Linked DNA regions of Homo sapiens. The main gene of each other region encodes a partner of the protein of the gene in region 3 in a complex. Each region holds a gene or a part of one and is shown on either strand. Other genes may lie near its edges.

What was found.
Region 1: SF3A1 (region 3) and SF3B3 share a complex: the UniProt entries of both Homo sapiens proteins name them as parts of the 17S U2 SnRNP complex.
Region 2: SF3A1 (region 3) and SF3B2 share a complex: the UniProt entries of both Homo sapiens proteins name them as parts of the 17S U2 SnRNP complex.
Region 4: SF3A1 (region 3) and HTATSF1 share a complex: the UniProt entries of both Homo sapiens proteins name them as parts of the 17S U2 SnRNP complex.
Region 5: SF3A1 (region 3) and SF3B1 share a complex: the UniProt entries of both Homo sapiens proteins name them as parts of the 17S U2 SnRNP complex.

What each region holds. Positions count from the first base shown.
Region 1 is NC_000016.10:70,554,763-70,558,341, forward strand, and holds part of SF3B3 (splicing factor 3B subunit 3), read left to right. Parts: intron 1-288; coding exon 289-444; intron 445-1,416; coding exon 1,417-1,572; intron 1,573-2,123; coding exon 2,124-2,267; intron 2,268-3,579. UniProt on the Homo sapiens protein: Component of the 17S U2 SnRNP complex of the spliceosome, a large ribonucleoprotein complex that removes introns from transcribed pre-mRNAs.
Region 2 is NC_000011.10:66,062,323-66,065,901, forward strand, and holds part of SF3B2 (splicing factor 3B subunit 2), read left to right. Parts: intron 1-686; coding exon 687-794; intron 795-1,077; coding exon 1,078-1,220; intron 1,221-1,305; coding exon 1,306-1,407; intron 1,408-3,579. UniProt on the Homo sapiens protein: Component of the 17S U2 SnRNP complex of the spliceosome, a large ribonucleoprotein complex that removes introns from transcribed pre-mRNAs.
Region 3 is NC_000022.11:30,339,861-30,343,439, forward strand, and holds part of SF3A1 (splicing factor 3A subunit 1), read right to left. Parts: intron 3,020-3,579; coding exon 2,945-3,019; intron 2,491-2,944; coding exon 2,340-2,490; intron 2,026-2,339; coding exon 1,832-2,025; intron 953-1,831; coding exon 835-952; intron 522-834; coding exon 336-521; intron 1-335. UniProt on the Homo sapiens protein: Component of the 17S U2 SnRNP complex of the spliceosome, a large ribonucleoprotein complex that removes introns from transcribed pre-mRNAs.
Region 4 is NC_000023.11:136,510,190-136,512,896, reverse strand, and holds the end of HTATSF1 (17S U2 SnRNP complex component HTATSF1), read right to left. Parts: coding exon 2,678-2,707; intron 2,090-2,677; coding exon 884-2,089; 3' UTR 551-883; downstream 1-550. UniProt on the Homo sapiens protein: Component of the 17S U2 SnRNP complex of the spliceosome, a large ribonucleoprotein complex that removes introns from transcribed pre-mRNAs.
Region 5 is NC_000002.12:197,407,528-197,411,106, forward strand, and holds part of SF3B1 (splicing factor 3B subunit 1), read right to left. Parts: intron 2,481-3,579; coding exon 2,243-2,480; intron 1,055-2,242; coding exon 842-1,054; intron 593-841; coding exon 471-592; intron 1-470. UniProt on the Homo sapiens protein: Component of the 17S U2 SnRNP complex of the spliceosome, a large ribonucleoprotein complex that removes introns from transcribed pre-mRNAs.

The DNA.
Region 1 (3,579 bases), on a different chromosome or scaffold from region 3:
TTTTCTGTTACAGAGCCACATCACTGCAGCTTTCATCTCTAATAAAGATCTTTATAAGTGTTTTGTTAATAAGCTTTGAACTTCTTTGAAGTGGACACTGCAAAACATGAACTATTTAAAAGTTGACCTTGCCTGAGGCCTACTAACTCTTTTGTCTTTGATTCAACTGGTGCCTCAAATGCAGTGGCCCCAGGTCTGATTTTAGTGACAGATCTGATAGATGTGAGGGTCATTCTGAGTGATGAATCAAATTGTTAAAGTCAGGTTTCTTTCTGTTACTGACTCTAGGTCTATCCAGATGGCATTCGGCACATACGAGCAGACAAGAGAGTCAATGAGTGGAAGACCCCTGGAAAGAAAACAATTGTGAAGTGTGCAGTGAACCAGCGACAAGTGGTGATTGCCCTGACAGGAGGAGAGCTGGTCTATTTCGAGATGGATCCTGTATGTTATTTTATCATTCACTGTGGGACTTATTGTAGGGACCAGAGGGAAAGATGGGCATTGTAGTCTAGTCATTTAGATGATAGTATGGTGAAATCCTGTCTCTACTAAAAATACAAAAATTAGCTGGGCGTGTTGGCATGCACCTTGTAGTCCTAGCTACTCAGGAGGCTGAGGCAGGAGAATTGCTTGAACCCGGGAGGCAGAGGTTGCGGTGAGCTGAGATTGCACCACTGCACTCCAGCCTGGCGACAGAGCAAGACTCCGTCTCAAAAAAAAAAAAAAAAAAAAAAAGCGAGCTGGAGTGACAGTGTTCACAAACCAGTTTGGTCCCTTACAGAGATGGGGAAAAGGGGTAATTTGATGTCTAATTCTAGGTAGAGTTATGAAATCCCCTCTTAGCAGTGAAACACTTGCTCCTCCTGCATTTCACTCTCTACTTTTCCAACAAATATTTGGCATAGATTTAATTTCTGCAGTCTGAATCCATTTCAGAAAACTTCTATATGGAAGGATGTTCAGTACACTTAATTCTCTTGCTCTCAGGAGGTCTCTAGTGTGGCCAAATTTGTAGCCTGCCTGTACCTTTGGTTGAGATTTCTCTGTCTTTAACCATATTTGAATTCCCTTCACCCAGAATATTCTTGTAAAACACAGACAGTTTTATATGTCTCCATTTCCTGAGAACAAAGTTGGCTCAGAAAATTTGTGGCACATTGACCTTGTCAAAGGTCTGTTCATTCTCTTATTGATGGAAGATACTCATTTTGCTTGCTGTGAGCCTGTTAACTTCAGTCTTGAGAACTCAGGTAGATAAATTCTTGTCATTTACTATAGTAAGAGGAGTGAGAGGAAGCAGAACAAAATACAACAGCCCTCCTTCATTCTCTGGATCCAGGGTTTTGGGGTGAATTGGAGCATCTAGACCCATCCCTCTGTAGTTTTGACCTTGCTGTGTCTTTCCTCCTGTAGTCAGGACAGCTGAATGAGTACACAGAACGGAAGGAGATGTCAGCAGATGTGGTGTGCATGAGTCTGGCCAATGTACCCCCTGGAGAGCAGCGGTCTCGCTTCCTGGCTGTGGGGCTTGTGGACAACACTGTCAGAATCATCTCCCTGGATCCCTCAGTGAGTGACACTCTGAGCTTCAAGGATCATCTGGTTGGAACCTGAGCATCTGGCTCCTGATGTCTATCTCTGAGATCCACTCCTGATGTCTATCTCTGAGATCAGCTGGGTTAGAACCCAGAATCCATACCTGCTGCTTCTCTTGTCATTGCAGTGTGTTTCAGGAGTTTCCTGCTGTGGTTTAAGGATATGATCTGAGACTACAGAAATGTTTCTTTGGCTTAAGCCTCAACTCCTTTTTTTAAGTTAACAACCAAGACTGCATAAATTTGACTTGCTGCAGGACCCTAGGTGACTTTTCAGGAGGTGTGCTTTGCTTAATTACCTTTGCCATTATCTTCTTTGACAAAAGGAGGAAAGCATGATCTTCCCGAAGCTTATTCTGAAATTGGGTGTAACTAATAACTCAGTACTCTCTTAGAACTCACTCCCCGGGTTTTTTCTGTGCATAAGGAAGTACTTTTTCAATCCTAGAATTAGATTTCTCTGGGTATGTTTTTTTCCTAAAATTGTCATTTTCTGTGTTTTTATGATTTTTCTCTCCCTCTCAGGACTGTTTGCAACCTCTAAGCATGCAGGCTCTCCCAGCCCAGCCTGAGTCCTTGTGTATCGTGGAAATGGGTGGGACTGAGAAGCAGGATGAGCTGGGTGAGAGGGGCTCGATTGGCTTCCTATACCTGAATATTGGGCTACAGGTAAGAGATCCAGAGGCCCACATTGTGGACATTAGGCCTTCTGTACGTTTCACACACTCCTTTGTTTGATAACAGGGATTTTCTCTGCCCATGGTTTCAGATCCTCACCTTATGAAAAGTGAACAGTGTCACTCTGGGTTCCACTTTTCTCAGCTCTTTAATTCGAACAAATCAGGCTGAGAAAGAAATATTTTGATAAAGAGTCTTCACATCTGATAAATGCTGTTTGATAGCTACTCTAAGTCAGAACTGGATGGGTTCCTGAAGGATCAACTGTAGTTCCCACTATTCACTAGTTTCAAAAGCAGCAATGAATACCTCTCAGTTCATAATTGGCTTCATTAGCAATAAAGGACCCCTAAATGTTCCCTGTTGTCAAAGTTGCTGAGCTCTTTGTGCCGTGAAGAAAAGGTGTGCTTTAACGCTAAGATAGTGTCAGGATTCTTGATCATATGCTTTTCATTTTCCTTAATGATTATTGACTCAGACATCTAAGTAATCTAGCCCAGGTACTTTTTGCTTTTTAATTTTACTTCCTAATTTAGAAATCTCAAACATAGCCAGAAGTTAGAGAGACTAATACAGTGAACTTCCATGTACCCAGTTTTTTTGGGAGAGGGTTGTTGTTATTTTTTTAGTTTTTTTTCTTTTGTTGGATTTTTATGGGCTGCCACATGGGTTTTCGGTCTATTTTTTTCTTTTTTAGTTTTAACAGCTATCAGCAACATTCTGCTGTTCTTATTTTATCTTTTCCCTGGACTATTTTAAAGCAAATCCAAGATCTATCATTTCATCTATAAATACTTGATAATGTAGTTCCAACAGATGTCTGTTTTTGTAAGATACTAGTATTATCATGCTCAGCAAAATATAACAATAGTTCCTTATTACCATGTTCCAGTTTTCCCTGTTCTTCTTTCCCCCAATGTGGCTTTATAGTTGGTTGTGCTCAGGACCTCAGCATAGCAGTCTACGCTTTTTCCATTTCCTTCATCTTTCTTTTTATGTCTCTTAAACTGTTCTACCCCATTTTGAAGTATTACAAGATCAGATCATTTGTCTTGTAGAATTTCCCACCTTCTGGACTTAATAAAGTCATTCCTTATGTGTTCAAGTTCCTGTATCCTCTGTATCAAGCTGGTGGGTAGAATTAGACCATGCCATCCATTAGAAATGTAAGGTGAACTACAGGTGTAATTTAAATTTTCTAGTAGCCACGAACAGGAAAAAAGTAATTTTAATGTTTTTTTTTTTTCTTTAAAAAAAAATAGAGATAGGGTCTCGCTGTGTTGCTCAGACTGGTCTTGAACTC
Region 2 (3,579 bases), on a different chromosome or scaffold from region 3:
AAGAATGACCAGAGAGAAATAATTTTATCTCAGCCAGATGTGGTGTCTCAACACCTGTAATCCCAGCACTTTGGGAGGCTGAGGTGGGAGGATCCCTTGGGGCCAGGGGTTTAAGACTAGCCTGGGCAACATAGTGAAACCGCACCTCTACTTTAAAAAAAAAAAAAAAGAAAAAAGAAATAATTTTTTTTTAGCTTCACTTCAGTCTCTCAGAAATAATTTTATCTCAAGAATGTCTTCAAATTTCTTATTTTAAAATAAGCATTAAAAAAATTGATGAGTCATTAAAGTAAAACAGTAGTATTGTTAAATTTTAGATAGAAATTTCTGCCCCTTAAGATAAATAGATTCTGAACAAGCTAGCTTTCCAAAGTTAGGAAAACTCAATAAGAAATTGAAGTCATGTTTTCAATGTACGTATTTTGGTTTCAGACAGTAAAGACTCTGCCATGACAGAAGTTATTAGCATACTTTCTGCCTCCTGTCTCCTTATCCTGTTGCCTCCAGATTTTAGTTGTTTATTAATTTTGGTTTCTAATGCTTCATAACATTTGATTTAATTCTGCAGTCATAATTTCCGGAGTTCCCAAGTATCAGCTCTGTACTTTTGAGTGTGCCTTTTCTCTAGGGCTTCAGAATTTCTTTTGCAGCTAAGGAGTGAACTGATTGTGCTCACTGTCTTGCAGAGCTGTTCCTTTGGGTACCATGCTGGTGGCTGGGGCAAACCTCCAGTGGATGAGACTGGGAAACCGCTCTATGGGGACGTGTTTGGAACCAATGCTGCTGAATTTCAGGTATGGGCCATGTACTAGCGATCTTGGTTTTACTTAATGTCATGAAGGTTAGATTGTTGGTTTATAGCTTCATTATCAGGGAGTTGTGTGTTCTGACACAGCAGAGCCTGGAAAAGGGCATACATTTTCCTGAGATGTTAATGTAAGCTCCTCACTAGAATTTGAGCTCTAGGTAGGTAGGGATTATTGTGTTTTGACTCTTACACCCCTTCAGCTTAAAACAGCCTGGCACATAATAGGTACTTAGAAAACATTTGTTGAATGATAAAGTGATCTCTTTCAGACCAAGACTGAGGAAGAAGAGATTGATCGGACCCCTTGGGGGGAACTGGAACCATCTGATGAAGAATCCTCAGAAGAAGAGGAAGAGGAAGAAAGTGATGAAGACAAACCAGATGAGACAGGCTTTATTACCCCTGCAGACAGGTGGGGGAAGCAGAGAATGCCTCTTGGAAGTGGGCTATCTTTGGGGTCCTTCTCTTTACTCCAGAGCTTGTTCCTCTCTTTACAGTGGCCTTATCACTCCTGGAGGCTTTTCATCAGTGCCTGCTGGAATGGAGACCCCTGAACTCATTGAGCTGAGGAAGAAGAAGATTGAGGAGGCGATGGACGGGTAAGGGTACCAGACAGGGCTGAGAGGGGAGGACCTTCACTTCCCTTTGGCTGGCTGGCTGACTGTTGTTCCTTTCTCCCTCATCCTTTTTTAAACAATTATTGAACCAACTCTCTGCCAGGCACTACTGTAGGCAGTGAGGAGTCAGCAGTTGAGGTAAACTGGTAATCAGAGAACAAGATACTTTCAGATGTAGATAAGGATGTTGAAGCAGAGGAAACTGGGTAATGGGATGGGGTGGCAGGGAGGCCTTTGGGAAGGCCTCACTGGGGAGGTGGTGCTTGAACTAAGACCCGAATGAAAAAGCGCCAGCCACAGGATCATCTGGGTCAGAAGTAACAGTAAATGCAAGCAAGTGCAAAGGCACTGAGACAGGGATGGGCTAGTATTTTGAAGCTCCATTTTTAGGTAGTTGAATGTGTAGTGTTGTTAGGTCTTCATGAATTGACCCCTTTATCATGAAATGACCCTCTCTTTATCCATTCTGCTCTTTGTTCCCTTTTTCCTGTTTTTCTACCTTCTTTTGGATTACTTGAACAATTTTTATGATTTCATTTTATCTCCAGTGTTGGTTAATTAGCTGTTAAGTTTTTGCTTTGTTATTTTAGTTGTTGCTCTGGGGTTTATAGATCATGTCTTTATCAGGATCTACCTTCTCTTGATGTTACACTGCTTCCAGATAGTATTAAGAGCCATTATAGTATACTTCATTTCTCTCCTCCCAATTTTTGCACTATATTGTCATATATTCACTTTTACATATGTTATAAATCCTATACTATATAGTTATTATTTTTGTTTAAATGGTCAGTTATCTTTTAGGGAGGTTTAAATAAGAATCATGCATGAAGCCATGTAGTTACCATTTTTGTTTCTTTCATTTCTTTGTGTATATCCAGGTTTCTATCTGATATCATTTTTCCTCTGCCTGAAGGGCTTCCTTTAACATTTCTTAAGTTAGGGGGCGTGGTGGCTTAAGCCTGTAATCTCAGTACTCTCAGTACTTTGGGAGAAGGCTGAGGTGGTAGGATTGCTAGATTCCAGGAATTTGAGACCAGCCTGGGCAACATAGTGAGACCCCATTTCTACAAAATATTAAAAAAACATTTCTTGTATTGTGGGTCTGCTGGTTTTGAATTTGTTCTGCTTGAGTAGTCTTAAAAATTCTTTATTTGGCCTTCATTTTTGAAAGATCTTTGCCAGGTTTAGGATTCTAGGTTGACAATCTTTTTTCTTTCAACACTTTTTTTTTTCTTCTTTGAGATGGAATCTTGCTATGTCGCCCAGGCTGGAGTGTAGTGGTGTGATCTTGGCTCACTATAACCTCCACCTCCTGGGTTCAAGCGATTCTCCTGTTTCAGCCTCCCGAGTAGCTGAGATTACATGTGCATACCATCACACCCAGCTAATTTTTATATTTTTAGTAGGGATGGGGTTTTGCCATGTTGGCCAGGCTGGTCTCGAGCTCCTGGCTTCAAGTGATCCGCCTGCCTTGGCCTCCCAGCTTGTTGGGATTACATGTGTGAGTGACCGCATCAGCCTTCTTTCAGTACTTTTAAGATGTTGCTCCAGTGTCTTCTTTCTTGCATTGTTTCTAGTGAGAAAACTGCTGTCATTCTTACCTTTGTTCCTGTGTACATAATGTGTCATTTTTATTTGGCTGTTTTTAAGATTTTATCACTAGTTCTAACAATTTGACTACAATGTGCCTTGGTGTAGTTTCTGAATGTTTCTTTGCTTGGGGTTTTTTAAGCATCTTAGATCTGGGTTTTTAGTTTTTATTAATTTGGGGAAAATTTTGTCATGATTTCTGCAGATATTTTCTCTGTTCCCTTCTCTTTCCTTTGGGAACTCAAATTATTCCTCTATTAATGAAATAATAAATGAAAAAATAAATGAAGAGCTCACTGATGCTCTTCATTTTTAAAGAAATTCTTCTCTCTTTGTATTTCACTTTAGAAAATTTCTATTGCTATATGTTCAAGTTTACTATTATTTTCTTCTGTAATTTCTGATCTAACAGTAATCCCATACAATATAATTCTCCTTTCTAGAAGTTTGATTTCGGGTCTTTTAAATCTATTCTTTCTCTCTTAACTTTTTGAACATGTGGAATGCAGTTATAACAATATTTTATTTTTATGTTATTTTATTTTATTTTATGACGGAGTC
Region 3 (3,579 bases):
CCCACCTGTGGCACAGTTCCTGCCCCATTCCAAAGAGCTCATGGTACTCCAGCCATCAATGCTCTCCTTCTAAACAGCCACAGGAAGCCCTTCCAGCTAAAGCCAGAGCTTGCTCTGGGATGTCAACAGGCACATGGCATCTCCTTCAGTGTCTGCCTTTGGGGAATTTCTATGGGGAGTTCTTCTGGAAAGTGGGGAGTTCTCTTGCAATATCATAGAGTGCAACTCTCCTCAAAAGCTTTTGTTGACCTCAATTGTTGCTTTCTATGTTTGCTTAGAAGAAGATGGCTGTAATTCGGAGACTACCATGGGCTCTCCTGGAACCCCCACCTCACCTGGTGCGTACACCTCATCATCGCTCTGCTTCTCACGGATGGAGCGATCCCGCTGCTCCAGCCAGCGAGGGTCAAGAAGTCCAATGCGCATGTGTTCCTGCATTTTGCTGGCGGGGATCTTCTCCCCAGTAATGGGGGACACAAGATACTCATCTGGAGCAGGGGCTGGAGGCAAGGGCTTGGAGGCTAAAAGGAAACAGATGTTTCAGTAAGAACACTGGTGGGCAGCCACCTGAGTTAAGAGGGTGGTATTTCATGCGTGCATCATTCATCAAGGCATCTATTCAGTGCCACTCTTGTACCTGGCACTGTGAAAGGCACTAGGGCACCAGAGATGACTGGGCCCTGTTCCCACCATGAAACCTGTAACAGACGGGCTTGCAATGCTTTTACAATAAGCTGCACCTCAAGCCCTCCTAGAAAGACGGGTGTGAGGAACACATGAGGGCACACAGGACTTCCTGGGCAGCCCGAGGGTTGGGAAGCAGGCCCTCCCTACCTTTGGGATCATAATCCTTGCGGACAATGACTTGGTCTGGAGTTGGGGGCAGAGGTGGAGGCATGGGTGTCTCTGGGGGTGGGGGCACTTTCTGCCCTTCTTCTTCATCATCTGAACCCTGAAAAGCAAAGCAATGGCAGGACTCAGAGAGGGGCTGAGGCCACCTCCCTGTAGCTGAGCCTGGCAGGTCTCTGGGTGGCAAGGAGCCTTGGCCTCTGCCAGCCAGCGTCCATGTGCTAAGCCTCCCAGGGCAGCTGAGGCCAGCCGGCAGCAGGCCAAGCTGCTTCCTCACAGCATGAATGGGAGTGCTGAGGCCACGGTCCTAGCACTCCTCCCAGGCATTTCCAGCAGCTGGCACCAGGCAGTCCCAAGAGGCCAAGGGCACTTAACATGCCGGGGGGGGACAGTGCCAAGGGGGCGAGGGGTGGGGGCGGCGAGTCGCCAATCAATGGTAGCTGCTCACACAGCAATGCTGGGAGGGAGAGAAAAAGTCATTTCCCACAGACAGGGGCCCTTTCTTCTCAGGCTGTGCACAAATTATTTCCGAGTGGGGGAGAACAGTCTGGTTCTGGAGACTCCATGCCTGCTTAGAGGGCCTGGCTTGAAGGGGGTAGGGATGCCTGAAAGGAAGCGTGGGCTACATTTAGAAAAGCTCTGGGAGCTTGGAGCCCAGCTGAGAGCTCAAAACAGAACAGGGTAATGCAGTGAGTTCCCTGAGGGCTGGCACGAGGCAGTGAGAGCAGGCTGTCCGGGCCAGGGAGGCGGCCACAGAACAGGTCAGCACAGCTTTTAGATCCTTGCCTATGAATGAATCTTTGTTGCCGGAGCTGGAAAGAGGCTCTGTGCTGCCTGGACTTGGGCAGCTGTATGGCCTTGTTCAGGACCCACGCCTCCTTTCAAGGCTCACAGGGGAGCTGGATCTGACTGGTGGAGAGCACTTCGACCTCCTGGGGCTTCAGGGGAAAAGGTCATCCTGCAGGCCTGCCCAGCAGCTTACCTCATCCATATCTTGTACTTGGGTGTCCTGGTCCAGCTGGGAAGGAGGCTCCTCCGCCTTCTCCTGTTTGTCATCCTCCTCATCAGACTCGACCTCCATCTCAACTTCCTCACTCTCCCCAAACTTTTCATAGCGCTCCTGAATGAGGATTCGGGCCCCCAGCTCCTCTGGCGTGGTGGGGGGAGGGAAGTTCCCTAGAGGGTGAGCCAGAGGCAAAGGTATTCCTTATCAAAGACCCACCTATTTGCCCTGTCTGAGCTCCCCAAGGGCTGGGGCCATGTCTGTTTTCTCTCCAGCTATCTCCAGAGGCCCATCTAGGGTCTGGCAAGTACGTATTGAATCTAAGTTGGGCAAAGTGGTAGAACTGAAGTCTTTTGGGAGCAGGGAGGAGACAGCACTGATAAAGCCCTCTGAGAGATTCTACTGCTCTCTGGGAACACCTGCACCAGGTTTCCCGGGAAGTCTGAGTTCCTGGCTCCCCATCTGGAGTCACTCCTCACAGACCTACCTTGCTCATTGGGTTGGAAGTCCACTGTTTCCACCACCACAAAATCATGCCAGTCGATCTGAGCATAGGCCACCCGCTCCTTCTCCTTCTCCTCTTCTTCCTTCTTCCTCTCACGTTCCTGGAATTTGGCCCATTCCACTCGGTAACACACCTGCAGAGATGGGAAACAGCTTGGTGCTACGCTGAAGCAGGGTCTGCTCCTGATGAGGCTACCACCTCCAGGGCTTTCATCAAAGTCAGCGCCTCCTTCGGAACAGAATGGAAGTATGGTTCCAAACTATGGCATTTGCACCTGGTTCCACCCAGGTGCAGAGTTGGGACAGAATGAAAATTCCACCCTCTGATCTGCTTGGGAGCTGGCCTTCTGTCTTCTAGCTAGAGTGGAAAAGAGGGAGATATATTGAGGCTGAGAGCAAAGCAGAAAGTTGTGGTATGTTGGGAAGCATCCGGACTCCAGGTTTCTTTGGCCTTTGTAGCCAACAAAGCCTTTTCTCCCACCATTCCCATGACTGGAACATAACAAGGTCCTGCCTCAGAGACTGTTTTCAGACATAAAACAGAACCAACCACCAGTAACTGGTTGCAAGAAATGCTATTCAGTTTACCTGATCCAAAACTTCTCGGGGGTTTTCAGCCTCTTTCTTGAGCTTTGAAAATAAACCTTTGGGTGGAATCAAGATCTGAAATACAGAAGAGTTAAAGCAACTGTCAGTGCTTTACAACGCAGTACAAAGAGGCAGCCTTCCTGGGCCTGTGATAAAGCACAGGAGATGAGGAAGCATGGGATTCTGTGTCCCAATCCCAGCTCCACTTGGCTGTGGGACTTAGGGCAAGTTACTTAACCTCAGTAACTTGATTTCCTTCTCCAAAATAATGGCACCACCACTCAAAGTTGGCACCATGAACTTAAAAAGGTGGCTTCGAGGATTAGCAGGAAAGCATGCAAAGCACTAGCCGATTACCCAGAACACGGTCAGTATGAGACGGCTGCTTTCATGACACTGACCTGCTCTCATCCTTTCAAAAACACTACGCAGGTCCCCCCTGACTATCCTATTCAGAACCGCAGCGTACTTGCCCCACCTCCCTCTATTTCTGCTCCCTGCTTTCTCTCTGTAGTATTTAGCACCATGTAACAGACACTGACAATGCACTTGACTCCTCCTCACTAGACTAGAAACTCCATGAAGACAGGGATTTCTCTTTTGTTCACGATTACATCTCCAGCCCCCTGAATAAT
Region 4 (2,707 bases), on a different chromosome or scaffold from region 3:
GACTACACAACTTTGCACAGTGCTAGGCACTATGATTCTAAAAAAACGAACAACTGAAGCATGCATGAAGTTCTTCAACTTCAGGGAATCCATGAACCTCCCCAAACAGTACACAAGTTGTGTAGTGTAGTGTGTACATTTTTTTCTGGGAAGAGGTCCTCTAATTTGAATTAACTTCTAAAGGGGCCCAGAGACGCTAACAGTACAAGGTAGAATTCTAATCTGTTTCTTTAGATTTTTAATAATAATGGGAGCTGTAGACTGCAGGAAGTTCACTTTTGCACATCTGAGAGTCAATTTTAATGGAAAGAGGGTAGAAAACAAACAAGAGTTAATTTGCAAGGACTGGGCAGAAAAAAAAAATCCAGAGGGTTGTTTTCTGAGTTTAGGAACATGTTCTGGTTTATAGAGAGGAAATGGAGACATACGTGCTAATACCAGCGGGAAGCAAGGAGACTCCAAAGAGATTCTTCAAGTCCTCAGAAAAGCCAACCTTCAGTATAAATAAAGCAATATCAAGAATTTAAAATGCAATTTAACTCAAGTCCAATTTTCAGTTTCTGCATATTATCAACTCATTTTTATTGATGAATATCACAAACTTCAATCAATACTCTTAAAAATATTATTCTGCATGCATTTAACAAATCTGACAAAAGAACAAGTATCCAGTTTACTTGCATTGTAACTATGACATTTTAACTAAACAATCAATTAACATATATTTAAAACCATTAGGTACAGGTAACAATGAAACACTTCAATGCTTTAATCTGATGGCATCCTACCACTATGCACATGTTCATGTAACACTACTAGTAATTACCCTGAAGCACAGGCAAATGTAGATGGAGGACTCTCCCTAAAAAGCAAGTTTAAGGGATTAAATATCATCGTCATCATCATCGCTACTGAGAATAAAGCTGCTGCCAGTGGATAGGGGCCCTTCTTCAACACTCCCAAAACCACCCAAAGTCCCCCTCTCATCAGAATCGTCAAACAACTTCTCACTGGAATCTTCCTCCTCATCAAACAACTTCTCATTGGAATCATCATCTTCGAACAACTTTTCGTCAGCATCTTCAACTTCCTTTCCATCTGCATCTTCATCTTCCTTGTCATCTGACTCTTCAAACAGCTTTTCATCTGCATCACCTTCTTCCGCCTTTTTATCAGCAGCTTCAAGCCCCTTTTCATCTGCATATTCTTCATCCTCTTTCTCATCAGACTCATCATCAAATACTTTTTCATATGTATCCTCCTCTTCTTCCTTTTCATCTGAATCTTCGTCAAACTCTCTCTCAGAGCCTTCCTCATCTAACACTTTTTCAGAGCCGTCATCTTCAAATTCGGAGTTTTCAGAGTCATTTTCTTCTAACTCTTTGTCAAGAACATTTTCATGAAGCTCCTTTTCAGAACCTTCCTCGTCCAAATCTTTCTCGAGACCATTTTCTTCAAATTCTCTTTCGGAGCCATCTTCAGACTGTTTTTCAGAGCAGTCTTCATCAGACTCTTTCTCTGAGTCATCTTCTTCGGACTCTTTTGTGGGGCCAACCTCCTCTTCAGACTCCTTGTTGAGGTCATCTTCAGATTCCTTTGCAAGGCCATTCTCTTCACAATCATTTTTGAGTGTCTTCTTTTTAGACTCTTTTTTAGGACTATCCTCTTCAGATCCTCTTACGGGATTGCCTTCTTCAGACTCTTTTTGGGAGCAGCTGCCTTCAAACCCTCTTTTGGGGCAGCCCTCTTCAGATTCTTTTTCAGGGCAGCCTTCTTCAGCCTCTTTTTCGGGGCTACTTTCCTTAGCATTGTTTTCAGAAGCACCTTCTTCAAATTCTCCCCCATCTTCTGTCTTTTCAAACTTCTTCTCATCTATAGGTTCTTCAAACGCCATTCCAGTTGCAGTTTCTTGAGCATTCATTTTAGATGTGCTGGGGTGCTCTGAAAAATGCCTTGCTCTAGAAGGCCCTGCCCTTTCGGAAGCAGAGACAGAATCTGAACGCCTAAGGCCTCTGTTGGCCTCAGGAGCATTGAGGAAAGCCTCCCATCCTCTCAGCCTTTCCTCCCTTTCTCTTGAGGTTTCCTCCACCTGTGGATAAATGGAGACTGCCATTAAAATAAGTTTCAGGCAAAAGGTTACTTCTCTGAACATATCTAATATTGATGAAACAACCTTAATTTTATAAAGCATCTCTTATTAGGAAATGAAAGCAATTCCATCTTCAGTTTTCAAAACTTTACATCTTGATTTACTAGAGTTGACCTTAAATAAGACCACTTAAATAAAGGCCAAATATCACAGTACTGCAGAAATGTCTCATCTCTTAAAAAGTTAATATTTGAGCTCTGTCTATACTTTACAGCATACAAAGGAAGAGTAACATTTGGTTGAATGTGTTCTTTTCTTATCACTATTCTGAACAAGCCTCAAACTTTCAGACTTAGAAACTGAAAGACTCAAACATTTCTCTATCTTCTGAATGCAAAATATTATTTAAAAGCAGCACTGTAAATAATTAAGAGGAAGAGTAAAAAATTAAAATATATAAGTAAATAAAAATAAAAGAAGCATTGTTACATTAAATAGGTTAAACCAAACCCAAAATTTAGATCTGAAGGATCAGTATTTGTTGGTAATGAAACAATGTGTGTGCCCTTGACAAGCAGCAAAATTTACCTGATAATCTGTAGTCCCATCCCATGCCTG
Region 5 (3,579 bases), on a different chromosome or scaffold from region 3:
CTGGGAGGCGGAGGTTGCAATGAGCCGAAATCACGCCACTGCACTTCAGCCTGGGCAACAGAGTGAGACTCCATCTTTTAAAAAAAAAAAAAAAAAAAAATTCTTTGTGTCCACTGACAATCCATAAACTTAAGTATATAAAATCTTGGTGAAGCACCAAGTAAAATAACCACAATCTCAACGAGCTTATTCCTGGGACTGCTAGAAAACTGAAGCACCAGCAGTTCTCAAAGTATAACCGATAGACCCATACACAAGTCTTTGAGATGTCTTTCAAAAAGTAATAAAAGTTTCATGTTGTTCATTTCTTTTCATCTCTATATGGAACTGAAATATACCTGGAAATAGCTAAGAGAATGGAATGACAATAGTAAATTTGGGCAAAGCCAATGCAAGCTTAATCAATTTTTTTCACTATTTAAAATAAATGTATATCCTAAATACCACCTCATTCAAATTTGATGTACTACCTTATATCCTTCTGGGAACATAGCATCTAATTCCTCATCAGAAAGTGGGCGATTTCTCTCATCAATTTCTCTTTCCCACCGCCAAGCCTGAAGCTGTTCAGGAGTCATACTCATTATGTGACCTACCAAGAAAAGCAAATTTTTATATAATCTATAGTACAAGACTGTATTATTACATACATTGAGATAAAAGACAGTTAAGATCAATCCTATTATTTGCTTTTATATTATAAACGCAAACCAAGACTTAAATTTGTATATCTCCTTATTCTTACTAGAAGTTGACATTAATAGTACACAGAATACCACAAAGGAAAAAATTAAATAATTTATGGAGAAAAAAACAATTATGTCCAATGAGACAGTTCTACCTGGAGTAGGGGTAGCCATGTTCATGGCTGGTGTGCCAATTGGTGTCTTTCCAGGGGTCAGAACTGGAGTGCTTCCACCCATCTGACTAGCTGGTGTTTCATCCCACCGTGATTTTCTTTTACTGGCTCCAGGAGTCGGTGTTTCACCAATAGAATCTCCACCTCGATCTGTTCGAGGAGTCTCAGCCCATCCACTTCCATGCCCAGGAGTATCTTTAAAAAGAAAGAGTGAGTAAAACCACAATTTTAATCACTGTTAAAATAATATTCTTTATTCTCAAACAGTTATACTCAAAACTATCAAGTTCTAAAATAGAATATTCCTAAAATGGTGACCCATTTAAAGTTGTTTGAGACCAGCCTGATCAACATGATGAAACTCTGTCTCTACTAAAAATACAAAAAGTAGCCAGGTGTGGTGGTGGGCGCTTGTAATCCCAGCTACTCAGGAGGCTGAAGCAAAAGAATCACTTGAACTGGGGAGGCAGAGGTTGCAGTCAGCCGAGAGCGCACCACTGCACTCTAGCTTGGGTGACAGAGCAAGACTCCATCTCAACAACAACAACAAAAAAAGTAAATTTGATGTTATGTACATTTTTCCATAATAAAAAACAAAGGGTAAGTCAGGCACAGTGGTTCATGCCTGTAATTCCAACACTTTGGCAGATCACTTGAAACCAGGAGTTCAACACCAGGCTGGGCAATGAAGCAAGACATTGTCTCTACAAAAAATTTAAAAATTAGCCAGGGGCCGGAAGCGGTGGCTCATGCCTGTAATCCCAGCATTTCAGAAGGCCGAGGGGGGCAGATCATCTGAGGTCGGGAGTTCGAGACCCGCCTGACCAGCATAGAGAAACCCCGTCTCTACTAAAAATACAAAATTAGCCGGGCTTGGTGGCGCATGCCTGTAATCCCAGCTACTCAGGAAGGCTGAGGCAGGAGAATCGCCTGAATCCGGGAGGTGGAGGTTGCAGTGAGCTGAGATCGCGCCATTGCATTCCAGTCTGGACAACAAGAGCAAAACTCCATCTCAAAAAAAAAAAATTAGCCAGGCATGGTGGCATGCCCCTATAGTCTCAGCTACTAAGAAGGCTGAGGTGGGAAGATCACTTGAGCCTAGGATGTCAAGGCTACAGTGAGCAAGACCCTATCTCTAAAGAAACACACAAAATCAAAGGTTACAGCCTACTAACTTTACTTTTACCTAAGGTTCTTCCTTAAATCTTAAACCACTTCAAGAAGTGGAAAAAATTAGGCATATGAACTGTTCTATTCTTAATCTGTCCCCCAAAAGCAGCTGGTTATTTATACGTGTCCACCCAGGAATAAACAGAACACATTTCAGTCTGTAAACATATCACTCAACATTTCACCCACACACCCATACTCCACTAGAAGTACCTCTCTCTGTTTTGGGGGTTTCATCCCATCTGTTTTTACGAGCACTGGAAGTTGCGCCTCCATGGCCTGGTGTCGCATGGCCTGGTGTATCACCTCGTCCAGGAGTAGCAGCTCCCGCTGGTGTGTGGCTAGGTGTAGGATCCCATATTTTTGAGCCTGGGGTTGCTCCAGGAGTCTCGCTTCCCTTTGCACGACCTGGTGTCTCATCCCATCTTAAGGAAGGAGTATGCCCAGGGGTCTTAAAAAAGCAAAAAAATTTTATTTCACACACCCACACAGAAATAATTAGAAAATTTCCATAAAATAAAAAACTTTAAACGAAAAATGTTTTAGTTCTATGCACTATAATTAATGAAAAGTTAGAAGACACTACCTCTACTTATAGGAAAAGATACCTACTTTCTAGCAAATGTTTATGATTAAAAACAATGTAAAGTTTCAATCCGAAGCACTGACAAAAGTCCCAGCTTAAAAAAACAAAATATTATCGATATGAATCTTTGATATGCCATTAATAGCTCTGTGACTGGGGGAAATCACTGAGGTTTCTCTATCTAGATCAGTAATCGAAGGCTTTCAGCTCTAATTACATTAGTACTTCTCAAAGTGGGGCTTAGAGACACATATTTAGGGGAGAAGGAATTCGTGTGTTCTAAGAAAATAGTCCTGTTGATGTTTTGTTTAATTGTGTGTGTTTAATTAATATAAACATGCTTTAGATCACCTATGTAATTTTTTTTTTTTTTTTTTTTTTGAGACAGAGTCTCGCTCTGTCACCCAGGCTGGAGTGCCGGGGCATGATCTTGGCTCACAGCAACCTCTGCCTCCCGGGTTCAAGTGATTCTCCAGCCTCAGCCTCCTGAGTAGCTGGGGTTACAGGTGCCTGCCACCACGCCGGGCTAATTTTTGTATTTTTAGTAGAAACAGGGTTTCTCCACGTTGGTCAGGCTGGTCTCGAACTCCTGACCTCGTGATCCACCCACCTTGGCCTCCCAAAGTGCTGGGATTACAGGCGTGAGCCACCGCACCAGGCCCCACCTATGTAATTATAACCAGATACCGTCACATGATTTCAATCTTGAGATCAGTTTGTATGTACAGTTACATGTGTACCAAATAATATTACCCTAGCTGATGCTGGCAAGATTAATGAAAAAAGATGAGAGGTGGATTTTCATTTGTTTTTTGACACAGGGTCTCACTCTGTCGCCCAGGTTGAGTGCAGTGGCACAATCACGGCTCACTGCAGTCTCCACCTACCAAGCTCAAGTGATCCTCCCATGTCAGCCTCCTGAGTAGCTGAGACTACATACAGGCGCACACCACCACACCCAGTT